2 separate regions of the Homo sapiens genome follow, and region 2 is linked to region 1. The links come from fine-mapping of genetic effects on gene expression. Tissue or cell type: whole blood. Region 1 holds a variant in brackets; the other region holds the start of a gene. All regions are shown on one strand. Distances are from middle to middle.

The links. PIP is the estimated chance that this variant, and not a neighbour inherited with it, causes the effect.
Region 2: it holds the start of ASB8, and the variant in region 1 is fine-mapped to the expression of ASB8 in whole blood (INTERVAL, PIP above 0.99).

Annotation. Positions count from the first base shown.
Region 1 is chr12:48,213,868-48,222,065 of GRCh38, reverse strand. It overlaps LOC102725258 (a long non-coding RNA gene), which reads right to left. Exons shown (of 3, transcript XR_001749122.3): 2 at 6-140. Among named protein-coding and RNA genes, the nearest start is that of OR10AD1, 15 kb to the right of the region's middle. RefSeq lists a silencer at 7,993-8,193. The variant AG/G (reference allele first, on the strand shown) is at 4,728.
Region 2 is chr12:48,153,999-48,162,157 of GRCh38, reverse strand. It overlaps ASB8 (ankyrin repeat and SOCS box containing 8), which reads left to right and starts at 4,643. Exons shown (of 4, transcript NM_024095.5): 1 at 4,643-4,699. It also overlaps the pseudogene LOC100421855. RefSeq lists enhancers at 4,463-4,682, 4,713-4,762, 4,783-4,832, 4,337-4,859.

The DNA.
Region 1 (8,198 bases):
ATTACCTTCAAAGGAACCACGATCAGGTTGGCAGTGTTTTTCTCAATGATGCAAGTCAAAATATAAAATTTTCTTGTTTAAGATTCCATTGTAGCAGACTAGAGAAGGGTTGTAAGTCACAGTGATATGCTCCTGCTGGCCTGGAAGAAAACAAACATCCATGCTGTGAACTGCCTGTGGGGGCCGTGTGGCCAGGAACTCTAGGAGCTGAGACCAATCCCCAGATGACAGCTAGTAAGTCATACGACTGCAAAAAAATGATTCTGCCAGCAACCAGTGAGCTTGGAAGAAGACCAATGCCTCAGATGAGAATGGCAGCCCCAGATGACTCCTTGATTTCCACCTAGTGAGACTGAGCAGAAGACTCAGCTAGTTCATACCCAGACTCCCAACCCATGGAAATGGTGAGATAATTTTCACTTGTAATAGTAAAGAAAAATTGTAAGATAAATTTTAAGATATTGTAAGATAAGATAAAGCAAAAAAATCATATGATAAATTTTACTATAAGCCACTAAATTTGTGGTAACGTTACACTGCAATAGAAAACTAATATATGTTTTAATTTTTTTTTTTTTTTTTGAGACGGAGTTTCACTCTGTCGCCCAGGCTAGAGTGCTGTGGCGCGATCTCGGCTCACTGCAAAGTCCGCTTCCCGGGTTCACGCCATTCTCCTGCCTCAGCCTCCCGAGCAGCTGTGACTACAGGCGCCTGCCACCACAACCGGCTATTTTTTTTGTATTTTTAGTAGAGACGGGGTTTTACTGTGTTAGCCAGGATGGTCTCGATTCCCTGACCTCGTGATCTGCCCGCCTCGCCTCCCAAAGTGCTGGGATTACAGGCGTGAGCCACCGCGCCCGGCTGTTTTAAATATTTTTAAGAAAATACTATGGAAAATTTTATGCCATTAAATCTGATAATGTAGATAAATGAAAAGTTATTAGAAAAATATAATTTTCCAAGTTGAAGAAGAAATAGAAAAACATAAACACACATATAAGCATGAGATTAAATGAATAGTTTAAAAATATTTCTATAAAGCCAGACATATGATTTTAAGGCAGATACTATCAAACAATTAAGGAAAAAAATGCTAACTTTGACTATACTAGAACAAAAGGAAGTACCTCAACCTTTTTAGTGATGTAAATATAACTTTGAAACTAAAATTTGCCCCCGGCAAAAAAGATAATTTCACTCTTGGACATAGTTGCAAAACTCCTAAGCAAAATTTTAGCAAATTGTATATTACAATATATTTAAAAGATTATACCTTATATCATGACCAAAGTAAAGTTTATCCCAGTAATTCAAAGTTGATTTTTTATTTTTATTTTTTAATTTAATTTAATTTTTTTAGAGACAGGGTCTCTCTTTGTCACCCAGGCTGGAGTGCAATGGTGCAATCAGCCTCAACCTCCTGGGCTCAAGTGGTCCTTCTGCCTCAGTCTCCTGAGTAGCTAGGACTACAGGCATGAATCACCATGCCTGGCTAATATAAAAAAATTTTTTTTAGAGATGGGGTCTCGCTGTATTGCACAGGCTGGTCTCGAATTCCTGTCCTCAAGTGATCCTTCCACCTCAGCCTCCCAAAGTGCTGGGATTACAGGCATGAGCCACTGTGCCAGCCTTGAAGTTGATTTAACATTAAAAAATGAATTAATGTAAATTACCACAGGAACAGAAAATGAAAAATCACATAATCATCTTAAGAGATGCAGGAATGCCATCTATTTTATTGAAAATTCATGTCTGTTTGTAATTTTTTGAAAAAAATCTCAGCAGACCAGGAATAGAAAAGAACTTCCTTAAGCTATTAAAGTGATTATAAACCAAAACCGCATAGCAAACATCATCTTTAATAGTGAAACATTAAAAGCATTATCTGTAAGATCATGTCTACTTTGTTATTAATAAAGGTGATATTTTGACCTCTATCTGCAGACTCATTGTCTTATTTCTCAGTTGATTCAGAACCATATGGGAGAGTAATATTGTTTACTGTATCCCCCTCGAGGTCCCATACAATTATTTTAAGTGATATTATTATATGTGTGGAAATAAAATTGCAAACAAAGAAAACAATAGAGTTTTGGTTATAATTAAAATATACTCAGTCATAATAATGTCTGGCAGGTCCTGGAAGAAAAGAATGCTGGTGATACACATATTTTGCATTCTCAAAGTACAGTGCGGGTGAATTAAGGGACAGAAATCTGCATTCCATGACCACAGCAGCACAATGTACAAAGTATGCCATTGTAGACTAGACTGGTGGGAAAATGTCTTATTATAATGTAATGCTCTGATTCTTGTCATATTTACCTAAGAGGGGCAGGACAGTATTGAATACATTCAACAGCAACAATGTTTCTGTTGTTCTCTTAGCATGCTGTAAACACAGGAAATAAAATATAATACATATTTTATGGTTTATTATATGGAATCTGTTTTAGGAATGGGGTTAGTGCACTTACATTGTAAATGAACTCATCAATCTTGTTTAAATCATGTAGGGTCTTCTGTTAGAAAGCTTCAGCCTATGTGAGGCTTGACTATCTTCTTGTAGTCTGCTTTAAATAAAATGGGCCTCTCATAATTTCAAACCTTACACCACTTAAAACCTGGTTTATCTAATGCATACATAAATCTCTTACTTTTTCGATTAAATTAAATGCATCATTTCACGATGCAGAAAAACATCATTTTTTCTGGGTGAATAAACTTTATAGTAGAAAAATTTAATGTGGTGTTCATGGATCCCCAGGGAATCAACAGATATGTTTCAGAGTGTCCACGCATCTCTGAAATGTTGTAGGAAAAGTTGTGAGCAATAGAGCATTTTTCTTGGTGAGTCCACAATTTATCAGCTTCCCTAAGGCTGCTGGAACCCATGAAGGGTTAAAAATTTCTGTTTTGAAGTCACAAAGTTCCCACAAATTTATTTGGTCTGAAAATTATTCTTTTATCTTGCTGAATTGTTTGTTTCCTCAAAAGTGTCTCCAATGGAGAGTGATTGAGAGAGAGTTGAGCAGCCATCCACCACCAGTAGCCTCTAATAGAGCTTCAGTAAAGTACTGGTGGATCCCAACAGTAATAAGATAATAAAATAGGAAAATATGCACAAATAATTTTTAAAAATAGGTACAAGAGAAAATATCTGCTAATGACTGACAGATTCAAAGAATCTTGTTCATGGAAAAAGACATTTTTGTAACAACAACCAAAAAAAAGGCCAATCTAAGTGAGATCAAGAATTAAGTCTAGAAAGTCTTCCATTTAGGTACAAACTTGAAATTATACCTAAACTTTGAGGAATGCCTTAAGAGGCAGAGAGTAGCCATAAAAAATGTTCATTTGGTAATTGAATTGTTTGTGGATATGTGATTATTGTGGTATAAAAGAGAGACTCAGTGAAGAGAAGCAGGTTCCCTTTCATCTTTATTAAGGAAGATAAACAACAGCGATTCCTGTCCCTGAATTTGACAATGAGTGGACTGATTGGAGGTACCAAATTCCATAATGGCCAATACGTAATCATTTTGAAATTGAATATATAAAATAAAAGATTTAAATTAGGGCTTATTTGAAAATTGAATGGAGATTTTCTTTGCTACTCAAGGCAGAGAACTAGAGCCAGCACTTAGGATTTACAAGACTTGTCTTCCCTCCTCCCGCTCTGAAAATTTCCCTGGTCAAGTAAGATTAAATCAACAGGCAGTCTATAGGAAGAAGGCAAAACCATCCACCCTCCTGATTCTAGCCCAGAGAGCACATAGTTTGCCCTAAAGTGGTAAATCAATTTCTCTTTGTTAACTAAAAATAAGAGAATGTGTATGTTTTCATTAAATGGGAAAACTAATAAAATTTAGAAATCAGACTAATAAAAGCAAAGAAAGGACGTTTATTCATTCAAAAATACAGATAAGATGACCAGCTTTAGGAATCAATGAGGAATGAGCCCTGGAAGTAGGCCTGCTAAAATACAAGCTCAACCAGGATCTTCCAGAGTTCCTTATTAGTGAGACCAGGGTTACCCAGAACCAGATAGATAAGGGGTGAATGCACAAGTTGCAGTGTCATTTGTAAGATTCAGCTGCCTATTTGTGCAAGGAGAGAACCAAGTAATTGCATCTGGTTGGGTAGGTGTTTTGCATCAGGAATGCTAGAAAGAGATGAAACTACACTGAGACCCTTCACCAGGAGCAAAAAGAGAGAAATCAAAAAAGAACAGCCCACAGCAAAAGTCCCTGTAAGATCAGAGCGCTTTGGCCAGGCGTGGTGGCTCATGCCTGTAATCCCAGCACTTTGGGAGGCCAAGGCAGGCGGATCACGAGGTCAGGAGTTCAAGACCAGCCTGGCCAAGATGGTGAAACCCCGTCTCTACTAAAAATACAAAAAATTAGCTGGGGATGGTGGTGGGTGCCTGTAATCCAAGCTTCTGGGGAGGCTGAAACAGAGAATTGCTTGAACCTAGGAGGCAGAGGTTGCAGTGAGCTGAGATCGCACCACTGCACTCCAGCCTGGGTGACGGAACAAGACTCTGTCTCAAAAAATAAAATAAAATAAAATAAAATAAAATAAAATAAAATAAAATAAAATAAAGTAAAATAAAAACTCAGAGCCCTTGTCCGCCAGACCTCTCTGACCTAGCACCAGCCCCATCATTAGAAACATAAGGTCAGCCCCTTACTCTATCCTTAAATGGCCAGAAAAAAAAAAAAAAA[AG/G]CTGTTTCTCCATCTGATTTTACATATAACCCAGAAAGCCCTGGAATTACGGTATTTTTAAAGATTTTAAAATTTGAGAACTCAGAACTCTGTGATTTTCACTAAGACATATCTGCTAGGAATAAAATCGGGAAACAACAAGCAATAAAGTTTTGCCATGTATTTCCTAATGAAGTTGTGGAGACAAAAGCATGTGGACCCATGTTTGGGGAGGCATTTGCAAGACAGATGTAAATGACTTTTAATGAAGGGCAACTAAGCCTTAGTGAGAGTTCCTGGAGGCCTCTGCTTGACAAGTCTGTTGCAATGTAGCAACTCATTCCAATGTTGCACAAACCCACTTCAGAAGTGCTTCTACAGGCCTGTCCATTTCCCTTCTTTTCTATTTTAAGTTCATTCCCATTTCCCTTTTCTTCAGCAAGATGGACAGTGAGTAGTTTGCCTTTAATGGTGCCTTGCCTTGCAACAGATTTAAGTTAAATTGTAGAAGTGTTCTAAATTCTCTCATTGCTTCCCTCCCAGTTTTTTCTGCCTTCACTTTGCTCCATTCACCTCTTTGCTACCATATCCACTTCAGTTTCTCCATATCCCTCTGAAAGTGAGGATCTCTGAAGTACCTGCAGCCCCTGAAGATGCCTAACCAAGGCCAAGTATTATGAATGTATCCAGACTTGGCATGCCAGACCCCTGTGATGAGACATCCCTGTGATCTACAAAATAAGTGTAAGGCACAAACTGTCCTGGAAGGTCCTTCTTATTGGTCTGCATTAAAGGGAGATGTTATGGGGGAGAGACAACTATCTGAGCCGATGGTGCAGGGGTAAAAGAATTTACCAAGAGAATTAATTGTAGGTACAGAAAGGCAGATTTACTAGAGAAAGTAGGAAAATATTTTGCCAGAGAGGCAACTGGCAGTATCAGCATGAGAGAAGCTGACTGCAAAGAAACAGGCTTGGCTGGAGAGTTTATATTATAGAATAGAGTTTATGCTGTATGCTGAAAAGAGCTTTGTGCAGTGCTGATAATGCCAAGGTTGCAGTGAACTAACTTCAGGGTGTCTGGTAATAGTTGGGTACAGGAAGATTGCGAGTTATTTGTGCAGGAGGGCTATATGTCCTGGACCACGAAGAAAGGTATCTGCTTTCTTTTTTTGCTTTCCCTTGGTCCTGCCAGCCTGACTCCTTTTCCCTAATTAGGACTCCACAGAAGACATAATAAATAATGAAAATACCAAAAATAACCTCATCCTAATTTTATAGTGGAGGTTTTAATTCCGTATTGTGCCTCCCTCCATATCATAAGATATGATCGCCTTCCATGATCCCTATCCCTTCTCCAGCTGAGCCCTAAAGTGAATCTACTATTCCACTAGAAAAGCTATAACAAAAACCAGACGAGATTTGCTGCTCCTCCCCCTTCTCACAGTCACCTTCAATATGGGGATTTAAACAAAGAGTAAAATAACCAGAAATCTAAGGGAAAGACAGAGAAAATGATATGCAAAGCTATCCATGATAATGCTCCTCTGTGTGTATGTTCAAAAGAACTTAGTAATCAAGAAGAACCACGACACATCAGTGGACTGGATAATAACTTCAGCTGTTCCATGGCATTGATTAATCTGAGCTATTTTGCTATTTTAAATGCCTGAAAAAAATTGGACTAACTCTAAATAGCTTAGAGAAGAAAGGGAAAGAATGAGAGATATGAGAGAGAAAGACACACACACACACACACACACACACACACACACACACACACAGAGAGAGAGAGAAAGGGAAGGAGAGAGAGAGAGAATTCCTAACAGAGAGAATTAGTACTATCCTCTATAGCAATAAGGCACAGAAGAGAAAAATTTGAAACACACTGAGAGTCCTGGATTATGAAATAGATGTTTTTTAAGAGGTGAATAGTTATGTATTTATGAGATTCAAAACCTCAAAACAGTTCAATAGCAAGAAAACAACTGAATTTAAAAATAGGCAAAAGGACTTGAATAGACATTTCTTAAAAGAACACAAAAAATGGCCAACAGGTATATGAAAAAAATGCTCAACATCACGAATCATCAGGGAAATGCAAATTAAAACCACAACGAGATATTGCCTCACACCTATTAGCAAAAAGACAAAAGATAAGTGTTGTGAGGTTGTGGAGAAAAGGGAATACATGCACACTGTTGGTGGGAATGTAAATTGGTATTGTCATTTCTTAAATATTATAGAGGTTCCTCAAAAAATTAAAATTAGAACTACCATATGATATATCCAAAGATACGAAATCAGTATGTCAAAGAGACCTCTGCACTGTCACAATCTTTGCAGCATTATTCACAGTAGCCAAGATAGAGAATCAACTTAAGTGTCCATCAATGGACAAATGCGTAAAGAAAATGTGGTATATATATACAATGGAACACTATTTAGCCTTAGAAAAAAACCAGGAAATTCTGTTATTTGCAACAACATGGATGAACCTGGAGGATGTGATGTTAAATGAAATATACCAGACACAGAAAGACAAATACCACATGATCTCACTTATATGTGGAATGTTAAAAAGTCAACCTCAGAAACAGAGAGTAGAATTGTGGTTACCTGGGGCTGGTAGGGAGTGAGGACTGGGGAGATGTTGGTCAAAAGATACAAACTTTTAGTTAGATGGGAGGAATAATTTCAAGAGCTCTATTGTACAACATGATGACTAGTTAATAACAAGGTATTAATATATTCTTGAAAATTGCTAAGAAAGTAGATTTTAAGTGTTCTCACCACAAAAATGATAAGTATGTGAAGTAATGGATATGTTAATTAGCTTTATTTAGTCATTTCACAATGTATACATATATTAAAACATCATATTTTACACCATAAATATATATAATTCTTTTGCCAATTAAAAAAAGAATTCACAGTCTTACTTTGAGTCAGACTGGGGGTACAAGGTAAAATGGCTTTGTTATCTCAAGCTAAATGATTTGTAAAATATTTTTTTCCTTTGCAGACTTAATCCTTTTTTTCCTCAGACGTAATAGTTTAAAAATGATTTGTAAAGCTGATGTATAAACACATTAAAAACACACAGACTTGAAAGTGCATCATTTTACAGAGAAGCAGTGAGGCATGGCACAGGGTAACGTAGAGGGACTTCGGAGACCGGCATACCTGAAATTCAGCCTCGGCATTGCCATTTACTCAATGGGAGTCAGCTAGCTGAGTCTCAAGTTTTTCTCCTACAAAATGAGGATTAACTAAAATAATACATGATTAGTGGCTTACACAGATAGACAACAAACATTAGTTCTGATCTCTGTTTCTTGTCTGTCTCCCTGTGGTTTCACTTCACCTATGGAAGGAAGATTGTACAGACTTGGCCAGGCTTCCACTTGTAAGCCCAACTGCTTCTGCAGAAACCCAGAGAGAGGAGAGGGTCTCACCTGCCCTTTCGAATCCATCCTCATGTTTCCGGCT
Region 2 (8,159 bases), 60 kb after region 1:
TAAGGTACTAATCTAAGACTGCTTTTCCTCCTCCTCCATGTAAGGCATATGGCTGGTGGCTGCCTGCAGCTTTCTCCTCAACTTTCTTCCTCCCCCACTAGATAACTGCTATTGAACCTGCTTGTGTAAAAGTGGGAGGAGGTAGGAAAGCTAAGGAGATAGGGCAGGTTTTTCTTTCTTGGTAGGGTAGGTCTGTACTACCTGGGTCTTGCACATGGTTAAAGCTGACTCTTTTTCTTAAAGCTTGCTTTAAAAGGTTCTTTGCAGATTCCCATCATCAGAGATCTCTTACTTGAGTTCCTTTGGCCAAAACCAATGCAAGTGGTTGACTGTGACAAACTGTGGATTGTAGCATCCCTGTGTTCATTTCTGGCTTCTAGCCACCGGGTCCCCCTATACCTCTAGACAGCCCATTTGGATAGACCGAAGGCAACCCCACGTTGGCTGTCTTCCATGTGGCCCACATCTGGTCCAGGAAAACATTTATACATTCGTCATCCCTCCTGAATCTGGGTGTCCAGACAGATACCAATGTAGCCACCTCTACTTTGTGGCTACAGCCCTCTTTAATTTATAAGTAAGCACTGGTGCAGTTTTTGTTTTACAACTATGGGGAACAATCTTCAAGTTCTCTGGTCCCACAGAAGCCCCTCTTTAGGCAACATCAGTACTTCCTTTCCCTCTGGGTAGGAGGAGAGTAGGGACTCAGCACATACAAATTTCTCCCCAAGAAGTCTCTTCACAGACCCTTCCTTCCTTCACTCTCTTGATCTCACCATGAGGTAGAACTGTTTGTCAACACTGACTTTGGACATAACAATGTTGTTGAAATAATCATCATTAATTGCAGTTGAGGATGTTCATATCTGTCTCCCAACCCTTGATAATAAGAGACTGTCTGTCTTCATTTCTGTCTTCCCTGGAGAGTTGAGCACAAAGCCTGGAATAAAGTAGGTGCTCAGTAAATGTTTGATGAAAGGATGATTGAATGTATCCGAAACCAACTTTTGTTGCGCACTGAATTCTCTGAGGCACTTCAAAGTAATCAGTATGGGCCAACTTTGGTGTCTCTTGCCTGGCTGACATGAGCTTTGGGGCCCAGCCAAGTAGACTGTGAGAGTGTTGCCAAGGCAATTCTGCATGCAAGAGGAAGTGTGGCAGGACTGGGGGTTTGCTGATAGCTGCCTGGGAAGCTGGCCCCTCAGGCAGTGATACCACCAACCACCCTTGAGGTGGTCAGGGCCTGAGCAGAAGGACTGCAGAGACTGCACATGCCCCTTGAAGCCCAGGCCTATTTCTTGGAAGTCTTTAGCATTCACATTTGCTATCTGAGGAGGTTTACTGCCTGGAGTGAAGTATTCAAAATAGAAAAGACAGAGAAGCTAGAGAAGGAACAGCAGTGAAGCATCAACAAGCCTTTACTGGGGGACCATTTTCCCTCACAACACATTTGGAGAGCCTGAAACTGACAAAGACTACCTGGGTCAGTGGCTGTTGATTTATTCTGGTTTCAGTCATTACTGATATCTGTCCAGAAGAACTAGAAAAAAATAATTCAAGTTGTGGGTGAGATAGTGTTCCAACTCTGCCAAATTTAACTTTTCATCACCATTGACCCAGAGAGGGACATAAAAAAGGCCATTGCAAATTATGTGAAAGAATTTTCTCCCAAACTGGTTGGCCTGATTGGCACGAAAGAAGAGATCAATCACGTGGCCAGAGCATACAGAGTATATTACAGCTCTAGCCCCAAGGATGAAGATGAAGACCATGTTAGTGAATCATACAATAACAATGTCTTTGATTGGGCCAGATGGTGAGTTTCCAGATTATTTTGGCCAGACCAGGAAGAATGCAGAAATTGTTAGCCAGTTCAATTGCTGCACACATGAGGGCACACAGGAAAAAAGAGCTAGCCAAAGCAGTGATGCTGGGTGCAATATTCTCTTGTTAAAGAGGAAGGAAGCAGCCAGGCGCGGTGGCTCACGCCTGTAATCCCAACACTTTTGGAGACCGAAGTGGGTGGAACACCTGAGGTCAGGAGTTCGACACCAGCCTGGCCATCATGGTGATACCCTGTCTCTACTAAAAATACAAAAATTAGCCAGGTGTGATGGTGCCCGCCTGTAACCCCAGCTACTCAGGAGGCCAAGGCAGGAGAATTGCTTGAACCCGGGAGGTGGGTGGAGGTTGCAGTGAGCTGAGATCGTGCCACTGCACTCCAGCCTGGGTGACAGAGTGAGACTTCATCTCAAAAAAAAAAAAAAAAGGAAGCTTTGTCTTCCATAGAAATATATATATTGTGTATATATATGTAATATATATAGTATATCTGTAATATATAGTACATATGTAATATATATATTGTGTGTATATATATATGTTATATATATGCAACCTACAGAATGACCTTTGCACCATTGTACCATGAGAATGTTTCTATTTTGGATTGGCATGTTACTCCTGGGTTCAGTCAAAATAGACTCTTGAAACTGTAAGATTACAACTCAAAGTCTCCCAGGTAGCTGTGGTGAGACCAGAGGACCAAGTCTAAATGAAGTCAGTGAAGAGTGGAGGACGCTCATGGAAGGACACAGCAAGGGAGGCACAGCCAGTGCATCTCCCATTATGAATGGGCCCTCCCAGCAGCTTTATTGGCTCTCCAGTGTTTTGGACCCTTGCTCATACAGGCTGTGGAACTGAATTTCACAGAAAAGAATAATTTTTATAGCACTTTGGCTTCTCTCTTCTTGAGTTATTTGCTCTTCTGTGTTCTTGGTGGCTGATGATAGTCAGATTAGGCTCTCTGCCATTCAAAGTTTATCTTTGTACTTGAAAGCATAAGTTTTGTCTTCTTTGTTAATGAATATCACTGTCAGGCTTGCTCCACTGCCCTATCAGCAGGTACTGATTTGACTAATAAAGATGAGATCTATTGTTTGGGGGGAAAAAAAGTTAGTTTGATTTCTCTAGGGGTCTCTTATGTGATTTTTAGCTAAGTGATGGGCTAGGTTTTCAATGACATGCCAAATGGAAATAAGAAGATATTGATCATGAGTGTGACATAGAGTAGTTTTCTGCATATACTGAGTTGCAGGCCAAGTAAAATAAAAGTGTACTCAGTTTTTCAATAAATAAGTAAAATAACCTGTATTGAGAGCCTATTTTATCACTCCCTGGGAGACTCCGCTCATTCTTACATTTGTAAGATGCTGATGGTTTCCCAGAATTTATATACTTCAGCATTTCCCAACCAAGAAATTTGAGAGATGTGGTCCAGTGTGGTGACTCATGCCTGTAATCCCAGCACTTTGGGAGGCCGAGGAGGGTGGATCACCTGAGGTCAGGAGTTTGAGACCAGCCTGGCCAACATGGTGAAACCCCATCTCTAATAAAAATACAAAAAAAAAATTAGCCAGGTGTGGTGGCAGGTGACTGTAGTCTCAGTTACTCAGGAGGCTGAGGCAGGAGAATCACTTGAACCCGGAAGGCTGAGGTTGCAGCCAGCCGAGATCACGCCATTGCACTCCAGCCTGGGTGAGAAGAGCGAAACTACATCTCAAAAATAAATAATGATGATGATAATAATAATAATAATAATAATAATAATAAAAACATTGCCAACATTTGCAACTTGGAAAAATTCACTTTTTAAAAAAAATCTGTATTTCAGCTTCTTTTGAAAAATGGACGATCTCACCATGGTGCAGTGGCAGGAAGTGGAGGGCATATTCCTACCTGGCAAAATTCCTTTGAGTCTGGAGCTCAAAGGAGGCCCACTCCTCAGACCAGGTCATGAACTTTCAGTTTACCATCCTCTTACTGATGTACATGATCTGTCTGGGCCTGCTTTAAATCTCTAATTGGTTAGATTTGGTTGCTTAGAACAAGCTCTGGGGAGTAGGTGTGGGGCACTCTGGTTAAACAGGCTACCGGGCAGACCACAACTCTTGCAGTCTGCCTAAATGGGCTGCTGCTTCACTCCTTCCATGCACCACCACCATGTGCTGCTGACTTCAAAATGTTTATGCTTTGCACAGAAAGTCTGTCACTCAGAGGTGTCATCATGTTTTTGTGCGGGAAGTTTCATTAACCCTAATAAGAGTTATAAAGGTCATTTATTCCTCTACATTTAGAATACTACACCTCTTGGGTGGTTGAGTTTGTCTTTGATATGGTTTACTTGAAGGAGGGTGGACATGTACAGGAGGGTTCTAAGGAGCATAGATTCGTTCCACCATTATGAATAATGCTGTAAGTATTTTTGTCAAAGACACTTCCTACTAAGAGTTTAGTCTCCTAAGCAACTGAACCATTGTGGATGGACCCCTGCTGGCCTGGTCCACGCAGGTGCAACCATATAGAATCGGCCCAACACTCAGGGTTCCTGAGCTTTTTTATCCCCGCTGCAGGACCAAGACCCGAACCCTGCGGCTGTGGCCGAGAACGCTGCACTGAGCCTGCGCGCAAAGCCTCTGAGTAAAAGGAGAAAGTAACCCCCTAACTAGGCCTCTGGAGGGCGAAAGCTGCTGCACAAGTCTGCGCAGGCGCGCCCCGCTGACGAACACTCATCAGTGCGCAGGCGCCCATCTTAGTTGGTCTTCTAGTCCGGTAAACAGAGGGCCTGCCCCCGACAGCTTCTGCTTCCGGGTCACGCCTTGACAGCGGCTTTCAACCCCCACCTCAGCCCAGCAATTCGGTGAGTGCGGTCCTTGGAGTGGGTCTACAGCCAGGTTTCCTAACCCAGGGTACCACGCCCAATAACGCTTCCTCTACTCCCTGGTCGAAGTGCTCTAGTTCTCGAGGCTGAGACTTATTTCCGGGCCTTAGAAGGCAGATCGAAGAGGGGGTTGGTCCGCGTCTGAGGCCCCCCAGCGCAAATTGCGTGATTCTCTTTCAGTACCGGACCTACCGGGATTGCTGCGATCTGTTTAGAGCCCGTGCAGAAAGTGACACCGCACGTCCTTGCGTTTCGTGCCCTTGCCCCCCGCCCCCTAGCCTCAGCGAGACAGCTGCCGCGGGCCCTCCCGCAGCAGGTGCGGTGGGGATTACGGGCGCTGCAGGCTCGGCCAAGGTTCTCCCGGGGCGGGAGGGGGCGGGGCCGAGGCCTCCCTCGCATCAGAGCTGTTGTGTCTTCTCTTTTCCAGTTTGCTTTTTTTTTTTTTTTTTTTCAGCTTCTCAGTAAGTGCCCTTTGGTGTTTTCTCTGGATCCCGTAGCAAAAGAAAACGAGGGAGACAGGGCTTTCAGCTCTAGCAGAGGAAAGGGCCTTCCAAGGGGATCAAACCTTACACGGGCTGCTGTCTAGTGAGATCGAATTTAGCTTTCCTTGACCATTCCTGAAGTGAATGCTGTCTGCCCTGAAGTTTCATTCCTTTACCGGGAGCTTCCAGGCAGCAGCAGACCACTGACCATACTCTCAGGAGTTCTTAGCCCAGAGCCCAAGAGCGCCCGGGAAATTAGTTCAGGATTTAGTTTCATCCGATTATCATGGCCCAGAAATGGTTAACAAAACGACTTTATTTATTTATTTTAATTTTTGAATTTTTTTGTAGAGACGATTGGGTTTTGGGGTCGTCTCGCCATGTTGCTCAGGCTGGTCTTGAACTTCCAGGTTCAAGAGTTCCTCCTGCCTTGGCCTCCCAAAGTGCTGGGATTACAGGCAACAGAACCACTTTGGTCCAAGCCTCCTGCTTTAGATGCTCTGTCTTCTGCTGCCATTCTTGGAATTACCAACTCAAATGCACTTGTCTTTTTTTTTCCTTGAAACAAAAAAATTATAAGATACAGATACTTGTCTCAGAGCAGTTTAGTGGCTACTGGAGAGATTAAAACACATGCCAAATCTAAACTATCTAGAAAATGTCATAGAGACATATAAACAAGTGTGTCAGCTTATCCGTGCATGATAACGGGAGAAAAATACCTAATTTGAATTATCGATACATATGAATATTTTTACTTGCATTCTTTTAATGGAATTTACATCTACTATAAATGGCTACTGATTCACAAAATAGAAACTATCAGAATTTATAGTATATAATATATAAAGGGATACACAATCACAAAAAGCAAAAATAGGCCGGGCATGGTGGCTCATGTCTGTAATCCCAGCACTCTGGGAGGCCAAAGCAGGTGGATGACCTGAGGTCAGGAGTTTGAGACCAGTTTGGCCAACATGGTGAAACCCTGTCTCTACTAAACATACAAAAATTAGCTGGGCGTGATGGTGCACACCTGTAAATCCCAGCTACTCAGGAGGCTGAGGAACGTGAATTGCTTGAGCCTGGGAGGCTGAGGTTGCAGTGAGCTGAGATCGCACCACTGCACTCCAGCCTAGATGACAGAGTGAGACTCCGCCTCAAAAAAAAAAAAATAAAGCAAAAGACTATATATACATATATATATATATATTTTTTTTTTTTTTGAGATGGAGTCTCACTCTGTCATCTAGGCTGGAGTGCAGTGGCGCGATCTCAGCTCACTGCAACCGCCACCTCCCAGGTTCAAGCGATTCTCCTGCCTCAGCCTCCCAAGTGGCTGGGACTACCAGGGGTGGTGCATGCCACCATGCCTGGCTAATTTTTTTGTATTTTCAGTAGAGACGGGGTTTCACCATGTTGGCCAGGCTAGTCTCGAACTGCTGACCTCAAGTGATCCGCCCATCTCGGCCTCCCAAAGTGCTGGGATTACAGGCGTGAGCCATCGCGCCCCGCCAAAACATTATATATTATTAAATGACCAAAACAATTTCATATGGGTAATGTGCTTATTTATTTCAAGTCTTGAATTTCTTAGGATCTAAAGTAATAAACTTTACATTGGTTCAACAGATGTTAAGAACCTACCATGTGTTCAGGTACTATTGAAAAAATCAGTATCGTTATTCCCAAAGAGCTTATAATAAGAACACAGATTTCTAAGCAGTTGCACCTAGAGAGCTGATACTGTGTATTATATTTTCCCTATTGTTTTTGATATGTACTGTTTCATAGAAGTGTTCTACCTTATTGGCTGTAATTTTAAATGGTCCCTAACTCTTGTCTCTTATACAGCCAAGCCTTTTAAGTTGAATTGAAGTATATTGCATTATTTTCTTCTTCCATCCTAGAACTCTGTCCTATTGTGGTTTCAACATATATTTCACCAAATCTATTTCTCAGTTGCCATGAATAGCCAATTATTAAAAATTTTCACTCATTTTATTTATTTTTTTGAGATGGAGTCTCACTCTGTTGCCAAGATTGGAGTACAGTAGTGCAGCCTCAGCTCACTGCAACCTCTGCCTCCTGGGTTCAAGCTATTTTCCTGCCTCAGCCTCCCGAGTAGCTGGAATTACAGGCGTGCGCCACCATGCCCAGCTAATTTTTTTTGTATTTTTAGTACAGATGGGCTTTCACCATGTTGGTAAGGCTGGTCTCGAACTCCTGACCTCAGGTGATCCACCCACCTCAGCCTTCCAAAGTGCTGGGATTACAGGTGTGAGCCACCACGCCCCACCTTTAACTCATTTTAAAATCTGCAAATTTTCCTAAAACTGAAAGTACATTTTATTATTCTGAATTTTAATTTTTTCCTAGTTTTATATAAATGACTCCAGGGTAGTTATACTTTTGCTTTCCTTACCTATTTTAGAATACTACCTCAAATATTTCCTTTTTTTTTTTTTTTTTTTTGAGATAGAGTCTCACTCTGTTGCCCAGGCTGGAGTGCGGTGGCCCGATCTCGGCTCACTGCAAGCTCTGCCTCCCAGGTTCACGCCATTCTCCTGCCCCAGCCTCCCAAGTAGTTGGGACTACAGGCGCCCACCACCACGTCCAGCTAATTTTTTTGTATTTTTTGTAGAGACGGGGTTTCACTGTGTTAGCCAAGATGGTCTGGATCTCCTGACCTTGTGATCCACCCATCTCGGCCTCCCAAAGTGCTGGGATTACAGGCATGAGCCACCACGCCCTGCCAAATATTTCCTTTTTTTCCTCTTCTGAACACATTTGAAAATGTTTCAGATAACTTTTCATTATTAAGATATATTTGCTCCATAGCCTTCTTCCTCTCTTTTCACACATAACAATCACTTCTATACTGTTTAGTCAGTCGACCAACCAATATTTGTTAAATACCTACCTTTTGTGAGATTCTGTGGCTGGCCTTACATGGG